Regions from separate parts of the Homo sapiens genome. Here all the other regions are linked to region 1. Evidence: fine-mapped expression QTL. A gene starts in region 1. Each other region holds a variant in brackets. All regions are shown on one strand. Distances are from middle to middle. Region 1 holds the start of MYO1C (myosin IC). Region 2 has its middle 4.5 kb from the start of CRK. Region 3 overlaps PITPNA (phosphatidylinositol transfer protein alpha). Region 4 has its middle 6.4 kb from the start of CRK-AS1. Region 5 overlaps CRK (CRK proto-oncogene, adaptor protein). Region 6 overlaps PITPNA (phosphatidylinositol transfer protein alpha).

Region 1 (4,102 bases):
TTCAGAGAACACCCTCTAGGGGCTTTGGGGACATGGCCTGTCCCCACATCCAGCACTTGCCTCCGCCATGGTCACTCGGCAGCCCTTTTCCCAGGAGAAGACACCTCTGGGAGCCTGCTCAGTGCTTGTCCTGCCATCCTGTGTCCTGGGACTGAGGGTTACTCCAGTTGCTCTGTGTTGCATACTCTCCCCCGCAAGCCTGTGTATGAAGAATTGTCCCCTGGCTTCCAGCAGGCCATGGCTGGCTGTTTTGTGACTGTTACATTGTGCAGGGGTAATTATTAGCGTGGCTTTTACACTTGCGTGTGACTGATGATTGGGGGGTGGGGGTACGGTGATGGGCCTGGGACTAGCTGTAGATTCCAGGAACAGGGACCCTGTAGATCCCAACTAGACTTCTGTGTCTGAGATTTGCAGAAGTGGCCAGGACTGGGGCTAGGATGAGGTTCTAGAATGGTGAGCCTCTGGGGCCCTAACCAGGTGGAGCATGCCATCTATGCCGGTGGCCGCTTAATGTACTCTGTTAAGTCAAATGAGCTCTTGTTCATCCCTCCTGACCCGCTGCTCTGCATACCCTGGTGTTGAGCCTTCTGCCTGCGTTAACCAGTCCAGAATGCCACCATCTTCTCTTTCTGCCCCACTTCTCCTCAGCCCCTTCTTGCTGAGTTTTCCCCCATGGTAACCTATCCCTGCCCCCAACACATATACCTAGGGACCTCCAAAGCCCTCACTTGCCCACCTGTTCCTTCTCACATGCACAGCCATCACGAGGGTTACTGCATGGCACCCTTCATTGGGCAGATGGGAAAGCCAAGGCTCAGAGAAGTGGTACAGTCTCTTCAAAGTTCCAGGCACCTGTGGTTTCCCACAGGACCAGAAACAGGAATGGGGTCTGAACCCACCCGCAGAGCGGTCTCAGTAGTCTGTAAAATACAGATGATGTCCCTATTCTCAAGATTACTGTGGGAGAACAATTGCAGAAAGTGTATCGCACTAGACCCGCCTCCCCGTTCTGATTAATGCGGCCCCGGGGCTTGACCCCAGGGGTCCCCCCACATGCTCACCTCCCCCGTGGTGAACTGAGGTCGCCACACACCCAGCCTCCTGTGTGGGAGGGGTGAGCCCAGCAGTGATTGAGAGGCGGAAAGGGGAATGGGGGGTGCTCTCCGTCCTCTGGGCCCCAGTCAGGATATGGCCGTTCTGGGTCCACCCCGACCCACTGGGTGGAAACAGGAAATAAGTGAGACCTGGTGTGCACTGGGTCTACGCCTGGCTCCACGGCTGATAAGGGCCATTGTGTGGCCGCCGGGGATGAGCCTGCTCTGGATAGATGTGCTTCCCGGAGGAAGGAAGGAAGGCTTGCTAGCTTTTCCGGGGCGGGGGAAGCTGTGGGGAGAGAGAAGGGTGCCGGGGGGAAGGCCCCTGCCTATGGGGCTGTCGGTGCCAGCACACACCCACGGGACTCAGCCCTTCCTATGCCAGCCTCTCCCTCTGGAAAGGTCTGTTTCCCCTATCCACTTCCCTGTTCTTACTTCCTATAAGGAATGGCTGGAGACTGGAGGGCTCAGTCTCAGGCCAGGAAAGTGTCAGCTGTGATTTAGCAACAATAAAAATAGAAAAGCAGGAACATCAGGGGTGGGGGTCACCTGGGGGTACTGTTGAAACGCAAGGGATGAACAGGGCTAGAGGTTGCCCACACCCAGGGAACCCAGGAACTAACCTCACAAGCTCTGAGGCTCAGAGGAGGGTAAGCCAAGAGCTTCCTCACAGCGGGACAGCCCCCTGTCCGGGCCCTGCATGACCAGGCCCCAGCAGCCCTGGTCTCTCAAACTCATGGTGGGGGCTCACCTGCTGTGGGGGGCAGCCCCGTTGAGGGGATGTGCAGGAAAGCCAGTGCCTACTAACGGGTCCTCTTGGCCTAGGGGAGGGCATGCCGTCTGGTTTGGGGAGTGGGCCCCGTGCTCTCTAGGTGGTACCAGAGAGTGGGCAGGAGGAGGGGCCCAGCCATAGAGCTGCCGTGGGGATGGGGGGAAGGGGAAAGGCGTCCTAGCCTTTGACCTGGAGCCCAGGGTCCCCCATGGGTGGCTGCATCGGCTCCTCTGGTTACCTGGGACAACAGGCATTTCCTCCATCCCCAGCCCCTCCTCTTCCTGCTCCAACCATCCGGGCCAAGAGGCCTCCCAGTCAGACCTGGACGGCTCCAGCCGTGTCCTGAGGAGCTGGACCAGCCACATCCCCTGGGGCTGCAGTTGAAGCAGAACCAAGTGGCCATCCCGGCGTTAGACCGTAGGTTCCTGGTCCCGGAGTGGTCGGAGCCCGCCAGTGGGCAGGCAGCTCTTGCTCACAGGCCGCGGTGCCCAGGCCGCTGGCTCTCCGCAGGGCGGAATGGCGCTGCAAGTGGAGCTGGTACCCACCGGGGAGATCATCCGCGTGGTTCATCCCCACAGGCCCTGCAAGCTTGTAAGCTGGGATGCTCTGGGCTGGGAGGAGGGTGGGAGCGTCTCCCCAAGGCCGGGCAGCCCCTCTCAGGCGAGCCCTCGGGCAAGAGCTGAGCAGCGGGGAGGGGTTCCGATCCTTGGCGGGGCCAGAACAGACTGAACAAGACGGGGTGAGTGGAAGAGTAAGGATGCAAGGGCCACTAGCAGCAGGATTTTTGGAAGTGGAGGTCTGGGCTTGACTCTTCCCCGGCTTCCCGAACCTCAGTGGGCAGAACCGTGAATACTGGGCACAAAAGGCAAGTGCCGGCTGCTGTGAGGTCGAAGGACCAGGGCATGGAAGCTCCAGGCTCAGTCAACGCCCCGCTCCTCTCCAGTCCGCAGGGCTGGGACCGCCCAAGACTCAGAACAGAAGGACGGTGTGGGAGGTGGGTGAAGGGTCACGGGTGGGTAGAAACGGGGGAGCGCGGCCCTGGCCCGGCCCGCAGGAAGGGGCTGGAGATGCAAAGGGCCCGGAGGAGGGAGAAAGTCGGGCGCCCCCACGCCCCCAGCAGCGCGGCGGGGAGCCGGGTCTTCGGCCGGAGGGGCGCGCGCGTGTTCGCTGTGGCCCCGGGAACGGGCCGAGGCGGGGGCCGCACGCACCGAGGCTTCGCGGACGCGGCCGGGGCTGAGGCGGGGCGGGGCGGGGCCGGAGGGTGCGCGGCCCTGCCCGGGATGACGACAGGCTGCGGCCCGGCCCCCGGCGGGCCCTGGGCGGGGAGAGTGCGCCCGGGCCGCGGATCCCCAAGCCCGCCACGCCGCCCAGCCCGGCCCCGCCCGCGCCGGAAGAGCCACGCCGGTGGGTACTCGGGGCGCGGGGACGGCGGCCGCGGGGGGCGGGTGTGGGGAGCGGGCGGCCGGGCCGGGAGCCGCCGTGCACGAGGCAGGGGTCACGGCCGGGGATCGCTGGGGCCGAAGAACGGCCGCGTGGACCCGTGCGGGGGGGGGGGGTCCCACGACCCGGAGGCGCCGGCGCAGCCTGGTGGAGACTTAGATTTACCTGCGGGGAGCGGGAGGCGGGGAAGAGCGGCCTGGGCTGCAGGACCCAGGACCCTGCGCGCCCTTCGGGCCCCGCCCGCAGCCCTGCTCCGCCTCTGGGTTCCGGAGAAGCCGCCTAAACCCGCCCCTTCCCGTTCTCCGCCCCTGGGGCCCAGCGCGCCCCGAGTGTGACGGGCGGGGGGCTCCGGGGTGGCCGGAGAAGGAGGATGGCCACGCGGCCCTCAGTCCTCACGCTCCGGCCTCCCGCGCACACGCCTGGCTCTGAGATTCATTCATTCATCCAGGGGTCCGGGAAGGGGTGACTGAGCCCCACCGTGTGCCTCGCTGCGTGTAGGGAGTGGGAGCCGTCTCCTGGGAGGGACTGACAAGGAAACAGCTGATTCCTGCGGGGTGCGATAAGGAGGCGCTGCGTGTTTGGGAGAATCAGGAAGGGGTTCTGGAGGAGGTGACACCTGAGCCGAGTCTCAGTGAGGTGGGCAGGGAGAGTGCCCCGGGCTGGGGAAGCCGCAGGTGCAGGCACTGAAGCTTGGACTGGCTGGCGACGGTGCGAAGGCCCCCTCCTGGGGGGAGGGGTGGGGGGAGAGGGGACTGGAGCGGGCCATCTGGCACATCGGAATGCAGGAGCAGTG
Region 2 (4,000 bases), 32 kb after region 1:
GTCCACTTTATCAGCAGTAACGATGCCTCCAAGAAGCTGATAGATAAGATAGGTATTAAGTGCAATTACATGCTTTATAACTGTGTCGACATTCCTTTCTCTAGCAAACCAGAATGCACGCGAGAATGACATCACAGACATTACCCAGACGTCCGCCTTTTTTTGTTTGTTTGTTTGTTTTTTTGTGACAGAGTCTGTCGCCCAGGCTGGAGTGCAATGGCACGATCTCAAAGTGGTCACTCCAAAGTGGTGGGATGACAGGCGTGAGCCACCGTGCCCAGCCTACTCTGACCTTTTGAGAGGTAACCAGGACTGGTTTGTGCCCTCAGCTCACATCCTGAGGGAAGTCCAGTGACCTCCAGGAAATATCTGCCAATTATGGGAAAAGCTAATGCTGGCTCTAGACAAGAGCTTCCGCCAGTTCTCCATTCATCCTTCCTTCATTCAACCCGGCGCTTTGGGAGGCCGAGGTGGGTGGATCATTTGAGGTCAGGAGTTTGAGACCAACCTGGCCTCCTGAGGCAGGAGAATTGCTTGAACCCGGGAGGTGGAGGTGGCAGTGAGCTGAGATGGAACCACTGTACTCCAGCCTGGGCAACAGGTTTTTGTTTGTTTGTTTGTGTGTTTTGAGACGAGTCTCACTGCATCGCCCAGGCTGGAGTGCAGTGGCGCGATCTCGGCTCACTGCAACCTCTGCCTCCTAGGTTCAAGCAATTCTGCCTCAGCCTCCTGAGTAGCTGTGACTACAGGTGCGTGCCACCACGCCCAGCTAATTTTTGTATTTTTAGTAGAGACGGAGTTTCACCATATTGGACAGGCTGGTCTCGAACTCCTGACCTCATGATCCGCCTGCCTTGGCCTCCCAAAGTGCTGGGATTCCAGGCATGAGCCACCGCGCCCGGCCCATTCAACCAGTATGAATTGAAGGAATGCTTGCAATGTGCCAGGATCTCAGTGAGGCTCTTGGGATATAGCAGGAACAACAAAAAGACCCAAATCCCTGCTCTCATGGAGCTTACACTCTAGCAAAGAATAGACAATACGTAAGGAAAATACCTAACATATTAGAAAGAGATAAGTGCTAGGAAAATAAGCAAAGCAGACAAGGGGAGAGGGAGTGTTGGTGTGTAGTTTGCAGTCAGGCAAGGCCTCACAGAGGAGATGACATCAGAGCGGGGACCTGAACGAGGAGAGGAAGTGACGGCTAGGATCTGGAGCAAGAGTGGTCAAGGCAGAGGGAACAGCAAGGCAAAGCCCTCGAGGAACGTGGAGTCTCCTGAGAGGAAAGGGAAGAAGGCTGGGGGCAGAGAAGAGTGGCAGAGGAAATGGGTACCTTCTCCTTGATTCTGCAAGAAGGCCTTTGTGTGAGCAGCTTCCCTAAAAGATTGCAGCGATGAGAGGAGTTTGCACGCAGCAAAGCAAATAACCCATTCTCGATGGTCCCAGAATCACATTGCCAGTGGGGACATCTTACTGACCTTTCCTGGAAGGCGCAGCATCCTGCCTGTGCTCCTCGCTCCGTCTCTACCCAAGACTCTCCTTGGAGTTCCCCTCACATGGTGCCCCAGAGTTCTCTTTTATTTCTTTATTTAGAGATGGAGTTTCACTCTTCTCACCCAGGCTGGAGTGCAGTGGCTCGATCTCGGCTCACTGCAACCTCTGCCTCCCGGGTTCCAGCAATTCTCCTGCCTCAGCCTCTTAAGTAGCTGGGATTGCACGCGCCCGCCACCACGCCTGGCTAATTTTTTGTGTTTTTAGTAGAGACGGGGTTTCACCATGTTAGCCAGGATGGTCTATTCTTCTTTAAAAAATTCTTTTTTGGCCGGGTGCGGTGGCTCACACCTGTAATCCCAGCACCTTGAGAGGCCGAGGGAGGCGGATCACCTGAGGTCGGGAGTTTGAGATCAGCCTGACCAACATGGAGAAACCCTGTCTCTACTAAAAATACAAAAAATTATCCAGGCATGGTGATACATGCCTGTAATTCCAGCTACTCGGGAGGCTGGGGCAGGAGAATCACTTGAACCCGGGAGATGGAGGTTGCGGTGAGCTGAGATCGTGCCATTGCACGGCAGCCTGGGCAACAGGAATGAAACTCCGTCTCAAAAAAAAAAAATTATTTTTCTTGTAATTTCCGTATGCCCTAGGGAGGGATCTCAGAGGGACTGCTTTGGAACAGGCAGTCTCTGGGTAAGGTCCAGAGCTCACAGACCAGCCAGAATTCACACTGGGACGGCTGCTTCTGCTGGCTCACGGTGCCAGGCTGTCACTAAGCCAGGGTCACGATGAGTCACCTGCAGCAGGAAAGGTGCCCTTGTGCCTCCCAGTCCCCCACCCCCCACTTCCCCAGAGCAGGCCCAAGGGTGTGTAAGGTGAGTCCAGCAGGACTGTGTTATTC[C/G]TTAGACCATAATCCACAGCTTACTGCTTTTTTAAAAATGTAGATTTCTGCCAACCCTTCCTCCCAATTCCTATCTCAGAAAATTGAGGGTAGAGCAGAGTGACCATAGCTGTCTCTCCTTCCAGGATTTGAACCCTAGCTCCTCACTCTGCGACCATGTCTCTCTGGACACATTACTTAAACTCTCTGAGCTTCAGTTTTCTCTTTTGTAAGATGGGGATACTTGTCAAATAAGGTTGTTGAGAGGATTAAATGAGATGATCCATACAAAGGCAGTCAGCACTGTGCCTGGCAGATGGTCATCTCTGAATCAATGTTAGCGGTCCTGAATGCTTCTGGAGCACCTCATAGACTAGCTGCTTGGCCTTTGAGGACATACACAGAACTGCAAATGAAAAATTACAGTAAAATGGGTAAGAGCTGTCATGGGAATAATTTGGACATACTGCTGTTGATGAAGAGAGGGAGTGATGGGATGGTTAAGAAAGGGAAGACATTTGGGCCGGGTGCGGTGGCTCACGCCTGTCATCCCAGCACTTTGGGAGGCCAAGGCAGGCAGATCACAAAGTCAGGAGATCAAGACCATCCTGGCTAACACGGTGAAACCCTGTCTCTACTAAAAAAAAAAAAAAAAAAATTATCCAGGCGCGGTGGCGGGCGCCTGTAGTCCCAGCTACTCGGGAGGCTGAGGCAGGAGAATGGCGTGAACCCGGGAGGCGGAGCTTGCAGTGAGCCAGGATCGCGCCACTGCACTCCAGCCTGGGCGACAGAGCGAGACTCCGACTCAAAAACAAAAAAAAAAAAAAAAAAAAAAAGAAAAAGAAAAAAAGAAAGGGAAGACATTTGAATTTGAGACTCCAAAGTGGGTAGAAGAACATTCCAGGAAAAAGAAACCCAGCATTCACATAGGAGCAGTTAAACGAGACTGTGGACCAGCACAGTGGTACCTCTATAATCCCAGCTACTGAGGAGGCTGAGGAAGGAGGACCCCTGGAGCCCAGGAATTAGAGTCCAACCTGGGCACCATAAGAAGACCTCATCTCTTTTTTTTTTTTTCTGAGACGGAGTCTCACTCTATCGCCCAGGCTGGAGTGCAGTGGCTCGATCTCAGCTCACTGCAAGCTCCGCCTCCTGGGTTCACCCATTCTCCTGCCTCAGCCTCCTGAGTAGCTGGGACTACAGGCGCCCGCCACCACGCCCAGCTAATTTTTTTTGTATTTTTAGTAGAGACCGCGTTTCACCGTGTTAGCCAGGATGGTGTCGATCTCCTGACCTCGTGATCCACCTGCCTCAGCCTCCCAAAATGCTGGGATTACTGGCGTGAGCCACAGCGACCAGCTGACCTCATCTCTTAAAAAAATGATGATTATTATTTTAGAGAGGTGGTCTCACTCTGTCACCTGGGCTGAAGTGCTGTGGCATGATCATAGCTCAATACAGCCTCGAACTCCTGGGCTCAAGTGATCCACCCGCCTCAGGTTCCTGAGTAGCTGGGACTATAGCTGGATGTGCCACCACGCTCGGCTATAAAGAAAAACAATGTTTTTTGAGATGGAGTCTCGCTCTGTCGCCCAGGCTGGAGTGCAATGGCGCGATCTCACC
Region 3 (4,102 bases), 50 kb before region 1:
CCTCATGATTTCGGAAAACCAGGTTGTCAGAACTGAGTGGATCTGTCTCTCGGGGTCTCACAAAGATGAATGTGTAAAAACCCCAGCGCCAGTCTATGAAGTTACACTAAAACGCAGAATTGCTACCGAAACGGGACATTCCCATTCGATGATCAGGGCATTCTTTTCTTGTGGATTCTTCTACATGAGAAACCAAATTATAATCAGAATGCCAATGTGTGGCAAAGAATGTCCGCTTGGCTGAGTGATCAGATTCTTGGGTCCATTGATGAGCACGTCTCGGAGAGGCCGAACTAGGAGAGACTTTCTTAGAGGAGATAGATTCAAAAAAGGTGCTTAGTTGGAGAAGTTTAGTGGCTGGTGTCATCAGACCAGGCCATCCTGGCACTGCTGCCCCCACTCCAGGGATGGCGCTGCCAGAGATGCCACATGCGGGGGCTGGGCCTCCGGGGCCCACCACGGCACAGGAGAATTTCTGCTGACGAGATACTATACCCATGATTTCCTTTTCTTATTCTAACGTGGTTTTCTTGAAGCTGCTAACAGGGCAGTTACTTCAGTGTAGGCCTTTCAGTTGTAATCTTAATCTGGTGCTTCCTTCTAAGTGTCTTTCGTTGGGTATGGGGGAATTACTGACAGTCTTTTGGGTTATTTCTGTGCGTGATAGCTCTTACTCTTTATATTTCAACTTTGCCTCATTTTGTGCTCCGGGGTCACCTTAACTTCAGTTCTGGAGTTTGTTACCCCACACACTCTACAAACATGGCAGTGGGGCAGCCAGCAGAAGTGGACATAGGTCCTAAATTCAGAGGGTACAGAATGAACCGGGCGGTCTCAGGAGCAGAGCTAGTCTGTTCCCCAGTGACATGAGAGGTGCAGTCATTTTCTCTGATAAATAATTGAACCATGCTTTCTAAGGGGTTCCCATTACAATGAGCAGGAGTGCAGAGCCTGGGAGGTTTGATTACAGCGAGAGGAAGGGTGCAGGAGGCAGATACAGTGCATGGCCAAAGCACCCTGCTCTGTGCCCCGGGAGGTAGAGGCTGGGGTAGGGGTGGGAGGCGCCGGAGAACGCTCTGATGCCAGAGTGATGAGTTGCGGCACCTCTGCTGATCAGAGCTGGTCCCTGTCAGTGCCCTGCTGAAAAGAATCCCAAGAAGCCCATAGCGGCGTCGCTTTAATTAAATTCCCTGTTTGGTTTTTTGGGATGTTTGTCTGAGTGAAATTTGAGGGTTGGTGCGTTAAGGTATTTCTGACTCACTGGGGCTTGGAGGTGACCGTGGAATAAGCCACAGGGAGTAAAGTACACTCTGCCATTCGTCCTCCTTGTGGGGGGTGGGGGGCAGATATTTCTTCATCTTCATTAATCTTTTTCTCTCTTCTTTCCATGTCCTTGCCTCGGAGCAGTTATTACAGTAAGTATTGTCAAGGGGGTTGGAACTGTAGATGATGTATAAGAACAGGAGAGAGAAAAATGTAACTGCACTGGTGGTCTTGGGTGTTCTTTCCCTTGGCTGATGTTTGGAGTTGCTGAGGCTCAGTCCTGTCAGTGGACTAACAAGGAACCTGTTAACTGGCATGATGACCTCCTGCTTTAAGCTGCATTGGCCTGCGGCTCCATTAAGTGCATCCTGGCTGTGGGTCTGACATGGACACAGTGGCTCGAGGCCCTGCCTCCCCAGGTCACACCTTTTCAAGGTTGTAGAGAGAGCTCCATTCAACTGACCTGACCGACATCCCTTCCCCATCTGTGCATCTGTTGAGTCCACTGAGCACTGATCCTTGGCAAAGTCGTGAAGTCAGCGGGGTTTCTCTTCCACAGCCGTCCCCTCTGTCATTGCCCACCCGCCCACCATTCAGCACACTCATCTGAGTGCCTTGTCCCTGCCGGTAAACACTGGCTGTCTCTGGGAAACTGGTTCCTGCTGAGGCGTTAATGGGTGAATGTGTTCCTCCTTTGAGAAGTTCCAATTTTTAAGAAGCAGGAAGGGAGGGAGGGAGGCAATAATTAGCTTGAAGGGTTCAGTTACTGAGAAGAAAACTTAAGGCCTTAGCCACAGGCTAGTTGGAGGGAAAGGGGCCATGGTGAGTATCTTCGATGGGTTAGGAAGTCTTCTGTGCTCTTTCCACACTGCTTACTACCCAGAGTGGCTAAATG[C/T]ATGGATTCTGAAGTCAGACGAAACTGTTTTGAGACCCAACTCTGTCGTGATCTCTGTGACTTTTTTTTTTTTTTCGAAACGGAGTCTTGCTGTTGTTTCCTAGACTGGAGTGCAGTGGTGCAATCTCGGCTCCCTGCAGCTTCTGCCTCCTGGGTTCAGGCGATTCTCCTGCCTCAGCCTCCCGAGTAGCTGGGATTACAGGCACCCGCCACCATGCCTGGATAATTTTTGTATTTTTAGTAGAGACGGGTTTCACCACTGTTGGCCAGACTGGTCTCGATCTTGTGACCTCAAGTGATCCGCCCGCCTCGGCCTCCCAAAGTGCTGAGATGACAGGCGTGAGCCACCATGCCTGGCCCGATCTCTGTGACTTTGGTTAAGTCACCTAACCTCTTTGAACCTCATCTGTAAAATGAGGGTGATTCTACAGAGCTCTCAGGCTGGGGTGAGGATTGAATGGGATAATACATGCCTAGTGTGTCGTGGGCTCCCAGTCAAGTTAACTGTTATTACAAGGCAGAGGCTGGAATCTCCTAGCTGCCCATGATCCAGTAATGCCCATCTCCAGTAATGGGAGATGGTTACTCTCAACTGTGAACCTAGTGACTTTCATGTATTTTTTTTCCTTCTTCCAGAATGAGTACATGAAAGAAGACTTTCTGATTAAAATTGAAACCTGGCACAAACCAGATCTTGGCACGCAGGAGAATGTGAGTAGTAGTTCCCAAAAGCCCCAGGGGTGAGGTCTTGAGTCTCTGCCTTGTAGCCTCTCCAGGGCTACCATGGGGTCCTCTCTGTGGTCCTCTTTTGCCTGGCCGGGAAGGCAGTGGCCTCTGCCTAGACCTATCTTACCAGCATGGGATTGCTATGTCTCTGATTTGCAAAATGTGATCTCCGGAACTTTTTATGGGGCCTTCTCGTACTGCTTGGATTGGTGCAGTTCCTGGTACATGGGAGCTATATCTTTAAAAGACCAAAATTACAGTTTTCTATAGAGCACAATTTGCAGTAACTCCCAAAAAATAAAATACACCTATCCTTTAGCATTTCCATGCCCAAGAATTTAGACAGTTATTTTCACATGTGTGAAATAACATATATACAAGGAGACTCATTGCAGTCTTCTTTGTGTAGCCAAAGATCAAAAACAATGTAAGACCATCCTGGGCAACATAACAAGACTCTGTCTCTACCAAAAATAAAAAAAGAATTAGCTGGGCATGGTGGTATGTGCCTGTGGTCCCAGCCACTCTGGAGGCCGAGGCTGGAGGATCATTTGAGGCTGGGAAGTCAAGGCTGCAGTGAGCTGTGACTGCACCACCACACTCCAGCCTGGGCAACAGAGTGACACCCTGTCTCCAAAAACAAAAAAACAACATAAGAGCCCGTTAGACCGGGTGCGGTGGCTCACGCCTGTAATCCCAGCACTTTGGGAGGCCGAGGCAGGCGGATCACGAGGTCAGGAGATCGAGACCATCCTGGCTAACACGGTGAAACCCTGTCCCTACTAAAAATACAAAACAGCCAGGCTTCATGGCGGGCACCTGTAGTCCCAGCTACTCAGGAGGCTGAGGCAGGAGAATGGCGTGAACCCGGGAGTCGAAGCTTGCAGTGAGCCGAGATCACGCCACTGTACTCCAACTTGGGTGACAGAGCGAGACACTGTCTTAAAAAAAAAAAAAGAGAAAAAAAAGGCCCGTTAGTAGGACAACGTTAAATGCATTGTGGTTCAGCCAAATAGTGACATCCTTGCAGCCATGGAAAAACCAATAGAGAGCAGTCTTCAAGTTGACTGTTCAGTGAAGGATGGAAGTTATGAAACAAGGTGTGTGCATGCCGCCCTTCATATTAAAAGAAAAATCCACGCACATGGATGTTTGTATGTAGGATCTCTTAGAGGTGGCTGTTACTAGACTGGGGACGAGGGACAAGCAAGAAGAGGA
Region 4 (4,102 bases), 75 kb after region 1:
CAGCACCTTGGGAGGCAGAGGCGAGCGGATCAGAAGGTCAGGAGTTCGAGACCAGCCTGGCCAACATAGTGAAACTCCGTCTCTACTAAAAATACTAAAATCTGGCTGGGCATGATGGCTCACGCCTGTAATCCCAGCACTTTAGGAGGCTGAGGTGGGTGGATCACAAAGTCAGGAGATCGAGACCATCCTGGCTAACATGGTGAAACCCGGTCTCCACTAAAAATACGAAAAATTAGCCGGGCGTGGTGGCACGCGCCTGTAGTCCCAGCTGCACGGGAGGCTGAGGCAGGAGAATCGCTTGAACCCGGGAGGCAGAGCTTGCAGTGATCCAAGATGGCACCACCGTACTCCAGCCTGGGCAACAGAGCGAGACTCTGTCTCAATTAATCAATCAATAAAATACAAAAATTAGCCAGGCGTTGTGGCGTGCACCTATAGTCCCAGCTACTCGGGAGGCTGAGGCAGATGAATTACTTGAACCTGTGAAGTGGAGATTGTAGTTAGCCGAGATCACGCCACTGCACTCCAGCCTGGGTGACAGAGCAAGACTCCATCTCAGGGAAAAAAAAAAAAAAGATGGGATTAATCAATGGTGATATATATAGACACAGATTTTTTTTTAATTATTTATTTATTTATTTTTGTTGAGATGGAGTTTCGCTCTTGTTGCCCAGGCTGGAGTGTAGTGCTGCGTTCTTGGCTCACTGCAACCTCCACCTCCTGGGTTCAAGCAATTCTCCTGCCTCAGCCTCCCGAGTAGCTGGGATTACAGGCATGCGCCACCATGCCCGGCTAATTTTGAATTTTTAGTAGAAACGGGATTTCTCCATGTTGGTCAGGCTGGTCTGGAACTCCCAACCTCAGGTGATCCGCCTGCCTCAGCCTCCCAAAGTGCTAGGATTACAGGGATGAGCCACCGTATCCGGCCTTTTTTTTTTTTTTTTTTTTTGGCGGGGCGCAGGGTGGGGGGCGGGGACGGAGTTTCACTCTTGTTGTGCAGGCTGGAGTATAGTGGCGCTATCTCAGCTCGTTGTAACCTCTGTCTCCTGTGTTCAAGCGATTCTCCTGCCTCAGCCTCCCGAGTAGCTGGGATTACAGGCACGTGCCACCATACCTGGCTAATTTTTGTATTTTTAGTAGAGATGGGGTTTCACCATTTTGGCCAGGCTGGTCTCAAACCTCCTGACCGCAGGTGATCCACTTTGGCCCCCCAAAGTACTGGGATTACAGGCGTGAGCCACCGCGCCTGGCCTCGTGATTTTTTTTTTTTTCAAGACAAAATTTTCCTCTTGTGCCCCAGGCTGGAGGGCAGTGGCGTGATCTCAGCTTACTCCAACCTTGCCTCCCGGGTATAAGCGATTCTCCTGCCTCAGCCTCCCGAATAGCTGGGATTACAGGTGCACGCCACCAGGCCCTGCTAATTTTTGTATTTTTAGTAGAGATGGTGTTTCACCATGTTGGCTAGGCTGGTCTTGAACTCTTGACCTCAGGTGATCCACCCGCCTCGGCCTCCCAGTGTGCTGGAATTACAGGCGTGAGCCACTGCGCCCGGCCTCTGGCCTGGTGATATTTTTAAAGGTCTCCATGAGTATGAGTCATAAAATACTGATTTGAGGGGACCATAAGAATCATATAAAGGCCTGAAAGCAGGCCAGGTACAGTGGCTTATGCCTGTAATCCTCGCACTTGGGAGGCCTAGGTGGTGGAATCATTTGAGATCAGGAGTTTGAAACCAGCCTGGCCCACGTGGTGAAACACTGTCTCTACTAAAAATACAAAAAAAAATTAGCTGGGTGTGGTGGTGTGCGCCTGTAATCCCAGCCACTTAGGCCGCTGAGGCAGAAGAGTTGCTTGAACCCAAGAGGCTGACGGTGCAGTGAGATTGTGCCACTTCACTCCAGCCTGAGCGACAGGGTAAG[A/TAAGA]CCCTGTCTGAAACAAAACCCAAAACCAAAAAAAACCCTGTTGAATGGCGTGTTCTTTTATATAGTCTACAGTATTCATACCAGCTGTCGTATTTTATGACCTGGACTTCCAGGTTAAATTCTGTTCCTCTTACAGGTATGAAAAGATGAGAGGGGGCCGGTATAGAAGAAAATGTGAAAATAACCATTAACCCTGCTAAGTTTGACAGGGAGAGGCGGAGAAAGTGGCGTGCTGTTGCCACCCATGTTCTGAAGACTGTGAAATGGGAGATAAGGTAGAGGCAAAAAAGAACCTTTAGCCATCTAGAAGTGAAGCTCAAAAACAGAGCAGGCCGGGCGCGGTGGCTCACGCCTCATCCCAGAACTGTGGGAGCCCGAGGCGGGTGGATTATGAGGTCAGGAGATCGAGACCATCCTGGCTAACACGGTGAAACCCCATCTCTACTAAAAATACAAAAAACTAGCCAGGTGTAGTGGCGGACGCCTGAGTCCCAGCTACTCCGGAGGCCGAGGCAGAGTGGCTTGAACCTGGGAGACGGAGTTTGCAGTGAGCCGAGACCACGCCACTGCACTCCAGCCTGGACGTCAGAGTGAGACTCCATCTCAAAAAAAAAAAAAAAAAAGCCAGGTGTGGTGGCAGGTGCCTTTAATCCCAGCTACTCGGGAAGCTGAGGCAGGAGAATCACTTCAACCGGGGAGGCAGAGGTTGCAGTAAGCTGAGATCGCACCATTGCACTCCGGCCTGGGCAACAGAGCGATACTGTCTCAAAAATAAATAAATAATATAAAATTAGCCGGGCATGGTGGGGGATGCCTGTAATCTCAGCTACTCAGGAGGCTGAGGTGGGAGACTCTCTTGAACCTGGGAGGCAGAGGTTGCAGTGAACCAAGACCACACCACTACACTCCAGCCTGGGCGACAGAACCAGACTCCGTTTCAAAAAGCAAACACGCAAAAAATCTATGATACTTAGAAAAAAGGAATGAATGTGATGAGTGTTGTTTTTTTTTTTTTTTTTTTGAGGTGGAGTTTTGCTCTGTTGTCCAGCCTGGAGTGCAATGGTGCCATCTCAGCTCACCACAACCTCCACCTCCCAGGTTAAAGCGATTCTTCTGCCTCAGCGTCCCAAGTAGCTGGGATTCCAGTGCGTGCCACCACGTCCGGCTAATTTTTTGTATTTTTAGTAGAGATGGGGTTTCACCATGTTGGCCAGGCTGGTCTTGAACTCCTGACCTTGTGATCTGCCCACCTCAGCCTCCCAAAGTGCTGGGATTACAGGCGTGAGCCACCATGCCCGGCCCTTTGTTTGTTTCTTTTGAGAGACAAAACTCACTGTTGCCCAGGCTGGGATGCAACAGTGCAACCCGGACTCAGCGCAGCCTGGACCTCCGGGACTCAAGCAATCTGCCCACCTATGCCTCCAAAATAGCTGGGACGACAGTTGCGCACCACCACACCTGGCTAGTTTGTTAATTTTTGGTAGAGATGAGGGTTTTGCTATGGCTGCTCTTGAACTCCTAGGCTCAAGTAATCCTCCTGCCTCAACCTCCCAAAATGCTGGGATTATCTGTGTGAGCTGCCATTCCCGGCTGAATGTGATTTTTTTTGTTTTTTGTTTGTTTGAGATGGGGTCTCACTCTGTTGCCCAGGCTGGAGTGCAGTGGCGTGATCTCAGCTCACAGAAACCTCCGCCTCCTGGACTCAAGCGATCCTCCCACCTCTCAGCCTTCCAGGCAGCTGGGACTACAGGCGCACACCACCATCCCCAGCTAATTTTTGAGGTTTTTTAAAATTACTATTTTTTAAGAGATGGGGTGTTGCTATGTAGCCCAGGCTGGTCTCAAAGGATCCACCTGCCTTGGCCTCCAAACATGCTGGGATTACAGGCCTGAGCCACCACGCCTGGCCAAAGTGAGGTTCTTGATCGTATTTTCTTTTTTTCTTTTCTTTTTTTTTTTTTCCGAGACAGAGTCTTATTCTGTCACCCAGGCTGGACTACAGTGGTACAATCTTGCCTCACTGCAACCTCCGCCTCCTGGGTTCAAGAAATTCTCCTGCCTCAGCCTCCCAAGTAGCTGGGATTACAGGCGCCCACCATCACACCCAGCTAATTTTTGTATTTTTAGTAGAGACGGGGTTTTACCGTATTGGCCAGGCTAGTCTTGAACTCCTGACCTCA
Region 5 (4,102 bases), 57 kb after region 1:
TTCTTCGGAATTATACATTCTAGATGTGAAGAGAAAAAATGTGTGAGCTCAGTGCAGACACAAGCTCTCTCCACCTTCTGAACAGCAGCAGGGACCCATGAAAAACAAGAGCTTGCTACATTTCCTGAGGTTGAAAAGTAGATGCAGGCCAGGCGCAGTAGCTCACACCTGTAATCCCAGCACTTTGGGAGGCTGAGGTGGGTGGATCACCTGAGATCAGGAGTTTGAGACCAGCCTGGCCAACATGGTGAAACCCCGTCTCTACTAAAAATACAAAAAAAAAAAAAAAAATTAGCTTGTCATGGTGGTGGGAGCCTGTAATCCTAGCTACTCAGGAGGCTGAGACGGGAGAATCGCTTGAACCCGGGAGGCAGAGGTTGCAGTGAGCAGAGATCACGCCACTACACTCCAGCCTGGGCGACACAGTGAGATTTGGTCTCAAAAAAAAAAAAACATGCAACAGAACCTTGAGGCTTACACTGCTCTGTAAATGGGGTAGCGACAGAACATATTTGGAGAATGCAGTGAAAGCCCCCGTCGTTGATCAAGTATGAGAGCACGTCCTGATCAGCCTAGTCTCCTGGCCTCCTCATCCTTCCCTGGGGCTGTAGTGATGGGCATCTTTCTTCCCAGGGGATGTTTCAGCTTCCAAATGTGATGTTGGTGTGCTGTGAAGAGAAGGGGTTATTTTTTCTAGAGTTTTTTTTGCTGATTAAATCTTGACTAAATGTGTATGAGGCATGCATGAAAGCTCCATTTCGGCCAGGCACAGTGGTGGGCTCCTGTAGTCCCAGCTACTCAGGAGTTTGTGGTGAGAGGATCACTTGAGCCCCGGAGGTCAAGACCAGCCTGGGTAACATAGTGAGATCCCAACTCTAAAAAAAATAAAAATAAAATCTGCATTTCATTTCCAGTGTAGTACATCATTAAATAACAGCCTGCTCTGTTTTTTCCAGGGGTGAGCCCCTCCAGACTCCGAATAGGAGATCAAGAGTTTGATTCATTGCCTGCTTTACTGGAATTCTACAAAATACACTATTTGGACACTACAACGTTGATAGAACCAGTTTCCAGATCCAGGCAGGGTAGTGGAGTGATTCTCAGGCAGGAGGAGGCGGAGTATGTGCGAGCCCTCTTTGACTTTAATGGGAATGATGAGGAAGATCTTCCCTTTAAGAAAGGAGACATCTTGAGAATCCGGGACAAGCCTGAAGAGCAGTGGTGGAATGCGGAGGACAGCGAAGGCAAGAGAGGGATGATTCCAGTCCCTTACGTCGAGAAGTATAGACCTGCCTCCGCCTCAGTATCGGCTCTGATTGGAGGTAACCAGGAGGGTTCCCACCCACAGCCACTGGGTGGGCCGGAGCCTGGGCCCTATGCCCAACCCAGCGTCAACACTCCGCTCCCTAACCTCCAGAATGGGCCCATATATGCCAGGGTTATCCAGAAGCGAGTCCCCAATGCCTACGACAAGACAGCCTTGGCTTTGGAGGTACATAACGTGCACAATGTAGAAAGAAGAGATCTGCTGCAGGGTCTCCTCTCGGTCCTCTTAGAGCTTTGTAGCAATGCTGACTACAGCATTGGGATGTTGTAGATGGCAAGCCGCTAAGCACTGATGTTGGCATTGAATGTTGGGTTTTCTCTTCTTCATAGAAAACCTGTTTGGGAATGAGTAAGCTTAAAACTGTATAACTGAATGTTCTTAATTGATCTACTAAACACACTTGGACTACTTTAATAACACCACCTGAATTCACAGGAATTAACCTCAAATGTTTTTCCTCATCTACATCCTCATCTGTTTCTTGCTTTCTGTTTGTCGTTGTCTAAAAGAAGGTGGGTTCAGATGGATTTGAGTGTAATAAGTGGTCTCTATCAAAGCACTTAAATGGAATTTTCCCGCAAAAACTTGTTTTTGCTTCAGGGGACTTGAAGTTCCTTACCACTAATGTTCATTGAGTAGAATCCGGGAGGAAATAGGCCTAGTAGAGGTTTGAAGAGATGCACACCCAGAAGTCCTCATTCCGAGGAGTGGCAGGTGCACGGGTCTTTCTAAATCATTCAAAAAGCCAGTTCTTCCTCAGGAATTAATTTTTGCCTTTACTGATGAAATATCTTTGGCAGCCCACTTCCTTCTGGCCAGCCATTACATGGTGTTAATTCCTTTATTCCTCTCTTCCACGCTCACACCTTGCTCTCCTACCTCCTTCCTTTCTTCTTCCTTCCTCCCTCTCTCCCTTCCTTTCTTTTCAGAAGAATTGATGGTTCAGTGTAAAAGCTAGTACAGACTGGGCACAGTGGCTCACACTTGTAATCCTAGTGCTCTGGGAGGCTAAGGCAGGAAGACCACTTGAGACCAGGTGTTCAAGACCAGTCTGGGAAACATAGACCTCAGCTTTTTTT[A/TA]ACAAAAAGTGAAAAAAAAAAATCACCAGGCGTGGTGGCATGCACCTGCAGTCCTGGCTTGAATGAGAAATGGAATGTATGTTGTCAGAGTTATCACTGCCTCTTGTTCCCATTCCCTGTTTGGAGGAAAATAGATTTCTACCCTCAGGTCTTCCTGTGAGTTCAGATGACGGTAACATCTGGCATGGTGCTGTGTGTATGATGGATCTTACTCCTTTTTATTTTCTTTTTTTTTTTTCCTCTCTGCTTTTTTTTATTTTTATCTGGCCTTACTGAGTCACTAGATGTAACTCTTGACATTTATTACAGACTTTATTAGCACTGGGTTGAAGTAAGTATGAAAACATGGAACAAAGGCTGGGCGTGTGGCTCATACCTGTAATCCCAGCACCTTGGGAGGCCGAGGTGGGCAGATCACTTGAGCTCAGGAGTTGGAGACCGGCCTAGGCAACATGGCAAAACACCATCTCTACAAAAAATTAGCTGGGCATGGTGGCACGTGCCTGTGGTCCCAGCTACTTGGGAGGCTGAGGAGGGAGGATCACCTGAGCCTGAAAGGTCATGGCTGAAGTGAGCTGAGATCATGACACTGCACTCCAGCCTGGGCGACAGGGTGAGACTCTGTCTCAAAAAAAGAAAAAGAAAAAAAGCCATGGAACAAGCCAGCTGACCCAGGAGAAACCAGTTATCATGTGAATTTTGCTTCTATTTGCATTTCCTTTCTCAGAGATTTAATCATGCCTGCCTTAATTAGAGGCTTTACTGCTCAAAAAAATGGTTGAGCTTCTCTACCTGCTGTGAAACACAAATCTCATTAAATAAAGATTTGAGTAGAAAACTAGTTTTATGATTTTAGTAAGTTTTCCTTTTTGATTTGGGTATTGGGTTTTTTTGGATTTTTTTTTTTTTTTTTGGTTCTTTTTGAGACGAAATCTCACTCCATCGCCCAGGCTGGGGTGCAATGGCACGATCTCGGCTCACTGCAACCTCCGCCTCCCAGGTTCAAGTGATTCCCCTGCCTCAGTCTCCTGAGTAGTTGGGATTACAGGCATACCCCATTGTGCCTGGCTAATTTTTGTATTTTTAGTAGAGACAGGGTTTCACCTTGTTGGCCAGGCTGGTCTCAAACTCCTGACCTCAGGTGATCCACCCGCCTCAGCCTCCCAAAGTGCTGGGATTACAGGTGTGAGCTGTCGTGCCTGGCCAATTTCTAGAAATGTCTTTATGTTGAGCTAAAACATATGTACTATGTGTGGTCACCGCTCATCAAGGGTATGGGGAGCTTAGCTTCAGGCATTATCAGTTGAGCTAGAGATCTTTGTGACTCACACCAGAACCAGGGTAAGGCCTATCTCCCAGGATTCTGTGGGATGTTTTTTCTGTTCATGTGGACTGTTAAATCTCAAACACTGGCAGCTTTCCACCAATACTACCCATGCCAGTTTCAGTCCATCTCTGATGCAGGTGAATTGTTAAGGCTGAATTGTCCTCATTTGTTTCCATCAATTTGAAAGACTGTCGATGGGCCCTAGATACACTACCTGTTACTTAGATCAGGGGTCTGCAAACCTTTTCTGTAAAGGTTTTTGAGGGCCTTAAATTCTGTGTCCCAACTCTGCCATTGTAGCAAGAAGGAAATCATAGATAAAACAACAGATGAGCTTGCTGTGTTCCAATAAAGCTGCAAAAACAACAG
Region 6 (4,102 bases), 36 kb before region 1:
GTCCTGAGGTCAGGGTTCCCTCAGCGCTTCAGAGAGTGAACCTCCTGGCTTTTGCTGTGAAGGAAAGGAGGGTGGTTGCTTGACTTCCAGAGCAGGAGAAGGGAACACCAGTTCCTAACCGTTCTCCATTTGGACTTTCAAAAAGTCACCAGTTTTGAGCCACACCTGGTACTCCCATCTGCAGCGGGACCTGGTGCTTCCAGTTCCTGAGCCTTTGCAGAACCTGCAGCTCCTTCTCCGCTCTCCATCCTCCAGGCACTTAGGTTCAGCTTTTGCTGCTCTGCAAATTAGCTACTGACTCTTCTGTCCTTTTTCCATCTCCCAAAAGGTTGTTAACTGGCTCTTACCTGCTGTGGTGTCCTCTGTTCCTGTTGTCTTCATAGTTTTTATCTTTTTAAATTCCTTTACTGTCATGTCATAGGGTTTGGGGGAGGAATAGAGATAGATGCCTGTCTTCCATGCACCGTGATGAACTGCACACTTGGAATAGGAATTATGACTGTTAGTCTCTAAGCCAGTACATAGTCGTCTAGTGCAGGCAGATTTTGTTTGTGAGTGATGAAGGGTCACTGCAAGGCCACAGTCATCACTGCTGTAACTCTAGTCCCTGTCCGGGCGGACCCACCATTCTTGAATGAGGCTTGAAGATTTGGGAAGCAAGGCATCGAGAGATTAGTTCTTCGCCCTAAAAAGAAAAAATTTCTGGAACTATGTGCCTGTAGGAAAGCAGTTTCTGTCTCTCTCTTTCTCCCCAACTTGCCTTTTTTCTCCCTTTCCCAAGCTCTTACTCTCTTAAGAGGCCCATAATCTGAAAAATGGAAGGAGGTATCTTAAAGGTCATTTGGTCCAATTATATGTTCAGTGCTTGAGTACTCTCTGAAGCTTCCCTACCAGCCTTTGCTTGATTACTGCCTGTAATGGGGAACTCACTGTCTCCCAAATATGGTAGTAATAAAAATATTTGTATTATTAATAGAAGCTAACATTTATTGAGGACTTCCTGTGTGCCTATCACGTATGCTAAGAGTTTCACATGTATTACATCACCCAGTTTTCATGGCAACCTGTAACACAGGTATTAGTTTCATTTTATAGATAAACTGTGGCTCACAGAAGTTGAGGACGTTTTATAATTCACTGAACAAGTACCTCTTGGCCTTTGGCCATTAACTCTTTAGATAATGAGATTCAGAAAAGAGAATTCACTTAAAAAATGTTAAGAAAACTTGTTTTCTTTTTTTTTTTTTCTTTTGAAACAGAGTCTCGCTCTGTCACCCAGGCTGGAGTACAGTGGTGCAATCTTGGCTCATTGCAACCTCCAACTCCCCAATTCAAGCAATTCTCATGTCACAGCCTCCTGAGTAGCTGGGACTACAGGTGCCCGCCACCACGCCTGGCTAATTTTTGTATTTTTAGTAGAGACAGGGTTTCCCCATGTTGCCCGGGCTGGTCTGGAACTCCTGAGCTCAGGTGACCCACCCGCCTCAGCCTCCCAAGGTGCTAGGATTACAGTTGTGAGCCACTGTGCCCAGCCAAGAATCTAAAATTTTATTTTATTTTTTTTGAGACAGAACCTTGCTGTGTCACCCAGGCTGGAGTGGAGTGGCGCCAGGCTGGAGTGCACTGGCACAATGTCAGCTCACAGCAACCTCCACCTCCCAGGTTCTAGCAATTCTCCTGCCTCAGCCTCCCAAGTAGCTGGGACTAGAGGCGCCCGCCACTACACGCCACTAATTTTCTATTTTTAATAGAGAGGGGGTTTCACCATGTTGGCCAGACTAGTCTCGAACTCCTGAGCTCAGGCAATGCACCTGCCTCGGCCTCCCAAAGTGCTGGGATTACAGGCATGAGCCACCATGCCCAGCCTCTAAAACTTTCATAGGAGCTGCAGAGGCTGCAGGATCCCTATATGTGAAGGATGACACTGCCCTCATGGAGTCTCTCTCTCTCTTTTTTTTTTTTTTTTTTTGAGATGGAGTCTTGCTCTGTCGCCCAGGCTGGACTGCAGTGGCGCAATCTCGGCTCACTGCAACCTCTGCCTCCCGGGTTCACACCATTCTCCTGCCTCAGCCTCCCAAGTAGCTGGGATTACAGGTGTGCGCCACCACGCCCAGCTAATTTTTGTATTTTTAGTAGAGATGGGGTTTCACCATGTTGGCCAGGATGGTCTTGAACTCCTGACCTCAGGTGATCCGCCTGCCTCGGCCTCCCAAAGTGTTGGGATTACAGGTGTGAGCCACCATGCCCAGCCACTCAGGGAGTCTTAATTCCCTCCAACCTGCTGGCAGTGATTGCAGACCATCTGGAACATCAGCCAACATCCCCAATTATGGAAGTAGCTTTGTTTTCTTTTCTTTTTTTTTTTTTT[A/TA]AGAGAGACAGTCTCGCTCTGTGGCCTAGGCTAGAGTGCAGTGCTGTGATCATAGCTCACTGCAGCCTTCAACTTCTGGGCTCAAGTGATCCTCCCACGTTAAGCTCCTAAGTAGCTAGGACTTCAGGTCCCACCACTACACCTGACTAATTTTTTTAGAGACAAGATCTCAATATGTTGCTCAGGCTGGTCTTGAATTACTGGTCTCAAGTGATCCTCCCACCTTGGTTTCCCAAAGTGCTGGGATTACCATCATGAGCCACTATACCTGGCCCTGTTTTCTTTTTAAATACAGTTTAAGGCACGGTGGCTCAAAAGCCTGTAATCCTAGCACTTTGGGAGGCTAAAGTTGGGCTGATCACCTGAGGTCAGAAGTTCCAGACCAGCCTGGCCAACATGGAGAAACCCCGTCTCTACTAAAAATACAAAAATCAGCCAGGTGTGGTGGTGTGTGCCTGTAATCCCAGCTACTTGGGAGGCTGAGACAGGAGAATCGCTTGAATCCAGGAGGCAGAAATGGTAGTGAGCCGAGATCATGCTGCTGCACTGTCCAGCCTTGGCGACAGAACAAGACAGGGTCTCACACTGTTGCCTAGGCTGGAGTATGGCAGCCTGAAACGCTTGGATTCAACTGATCCACCCACCTCAGCCTCCCAAGTAGCTGGGACTACAGGTGCAGGCCACCACGCCTACCTAATTTTTAAAATTTTTTTAATTTTTGTAGAGACAGGATCTTGCTATGTTGTCCAGGCTGGTCTCAAACTCCCAGCCACAAGTGATCCTTCCACCTCAGCCTCCCGAAGTGTTGGGATTGTAGGCGTGGGCCAACACACCCAGCCAGCTTCATTTCTGCACCGAACCTTTTATTTTGAAATGATTGAAAGATTCACTTGCAGTTATAAAAAATAACGTGGAAAGATCTATGTACCCTTTACCCAGTTTTTGCCAATGGTAACATCTTGCAAAACTATAGTACAATGTAATAACTCGGATATTAACATTGACACTTTACTATTTTTTTAGATCAAAGGTGTATTTCATACTTAATGGTCAAAATGATTTTCAAAAGATAGAAAAAAAATTTAAAAATAGAAGTCCAAATAACTAATAGGTGAATACATAAATAAAAGTCTTCTTGTTTCAGCCCCTGGCCTCATTCCCTAAAGGAAACCACTGTTAAAAACAAAAACAAACCAGGGCTGGGCACGGTGGCTCACACCTGTAATCCCAGCACTTTGGGAGGCCGAGGCGGGTGGATCACCTGAGCTTGGGAGTTTGAGACAGCCTGAGTAACATGGAGAAACCCCATCTACTAAAAATACAAGAAATTAGCCAGGCGTGGTGGTGCACGCCTGCAATCCCAGCTACTCGGGAGGCTGAGGCAGGAGAATCACTTGAACCCAGGAGGCAGAGATTGCGGTGAGCTGAGATCGCACCATTGTACTCCAGCCTGGGCAACAGAGCGAAACTCTATCTCAAAACAAACCAACCAACCAGGATTGAAGTTTCTATTTTCCTATTTTCACATACACATTTTCTTCAGCCATATTATATGTGTATGTATAGCCTACATTGGCTAAATCTGAGGAACACCACAAACATCAGATAAATCTCTCATGTCGTGTAGGCCCCAGGAAACAGGAAATAAGCATTCTTAGATCATTGTAAGACTGAAGTAATGGGCTGGGTGCGATGGCTCACACCTGTAATCCCAGCACTTTGGGAGGCTGAGGC

What was found. PIP is the estimated chance that this variant, and not a neighbour inherited with it, causes the effect.
Region 2: its variant is fine-mapped to the expression of MYO1C in whole blood (TOPMed, PIP above 0.99).
Region 3: its variant is fine-mapped to the expression of MYO1C in whole blood (TOPMed, PIP above 0.99).
Region 4: its variant is fine-mapped to the expression of MYO1C in whole blood (INTERVAL, PIP above 0.99).
Region 5: its variant is fine-mapped to the expression of MYO1C in whole blood (TOPMed, PIP above 0.99).
Region 6: its variant is fine-mapped to the expression of MYO1C in monocytes (Quach 2016, PIP 0.95).

Annotation. Positions count from the first base shown.
Region 1 is chr17:1,490,771-1,494,872 of GRCh38, reverse strand. It overlaps MYO1C (myosin IC), which reads left to right and starts at 2,187. Exons shown (of 32, transcript NM_001080779.2): 1 at 2,187-2,460. The coding sequence starts at 2,386. It overlaps INPP5K (inositol polyphosphate-5-phosphatase K), which reads left to right. Exons shown (of 12, transcript NM_016532.4): 12 at 1-296. LOC105371483 (a long non-coding RNA gene) reads right to left here and starts at 2,086. Exons shown (of 2, transcript XR_934145.4): 1 at 1,248-2,086; 2 at 179-923. RefSeq lists silencers at 2,932-3,331, 3,412-3,851 and an enhancer at 3,136-3,855.
Region 2 is chr17:1,458,693-1,462,692 of GRCh38, reverse strand. No RefSeq gene overlaps it. Among named protein-coding and RNA genes, the nearest start is that of CRK, 4.5 kb to the right of the region's middle. The variant C/G (reference allele first, on the strand shown) is at 2,399.
Region 3 is chr17:1,540,333-1,544,434 of GRCh38, reverse strand. PITPNA (phosphatidylinositol transfer protein alpha) reads left to right here. Exons shown (of 12, transcript NM_006224.4): 5 at 1,408-1,415; 6 at 2,795-2,869. Among named protein-coding and RNA genes, the nearest start is that of PITPNA, 20 kb to the left of the region's middle. RefSeq lists an enhancer at 1,491-2,251. The variant C/T (reference allele first, on the strand shown) is at 2,159.
Region 4 is chr17:1,416,109-1,420,210 of GRCh38, reverse strand. No RefSeq gene overlaps it. Among named protein-coding and RNA genes, the nearest start is that of CRK-AS1, 6.4 kb to the left of the region's middle. The variant A/TAAGA (reference allele first, on the strand shown) is at 1,923.
Region 5 is chr17:1,434,010-1,438,111 of GRCh38, reverse strand. CRK (CRK proto-oncogene, adaptor protein) reads left to right here. Exons shown (of 3, transcript NM_016823.4): 2 at 957-1,492. Among named protein-coding and RNA genes, the nearest start is that of CRK-AS1, 11 kb to the right of the region's middle. The variant A/TA (reference allele first, on the strand shown) is at 2,407.
Region 6 is chr17:1,527,005-1,531,106 of GRCh38, reverse strand. All of the region lies in intron 10 of PITPNA (phosphatidylinositol transfer protein alpha), which reads left to right. Among named protein-coding and RNA genes, the nearest start is that of PITPNA-AS1, 12 kb to the right of the region's middle. The variant A/TA (reference allele first, on the strand shown) is at 2,369.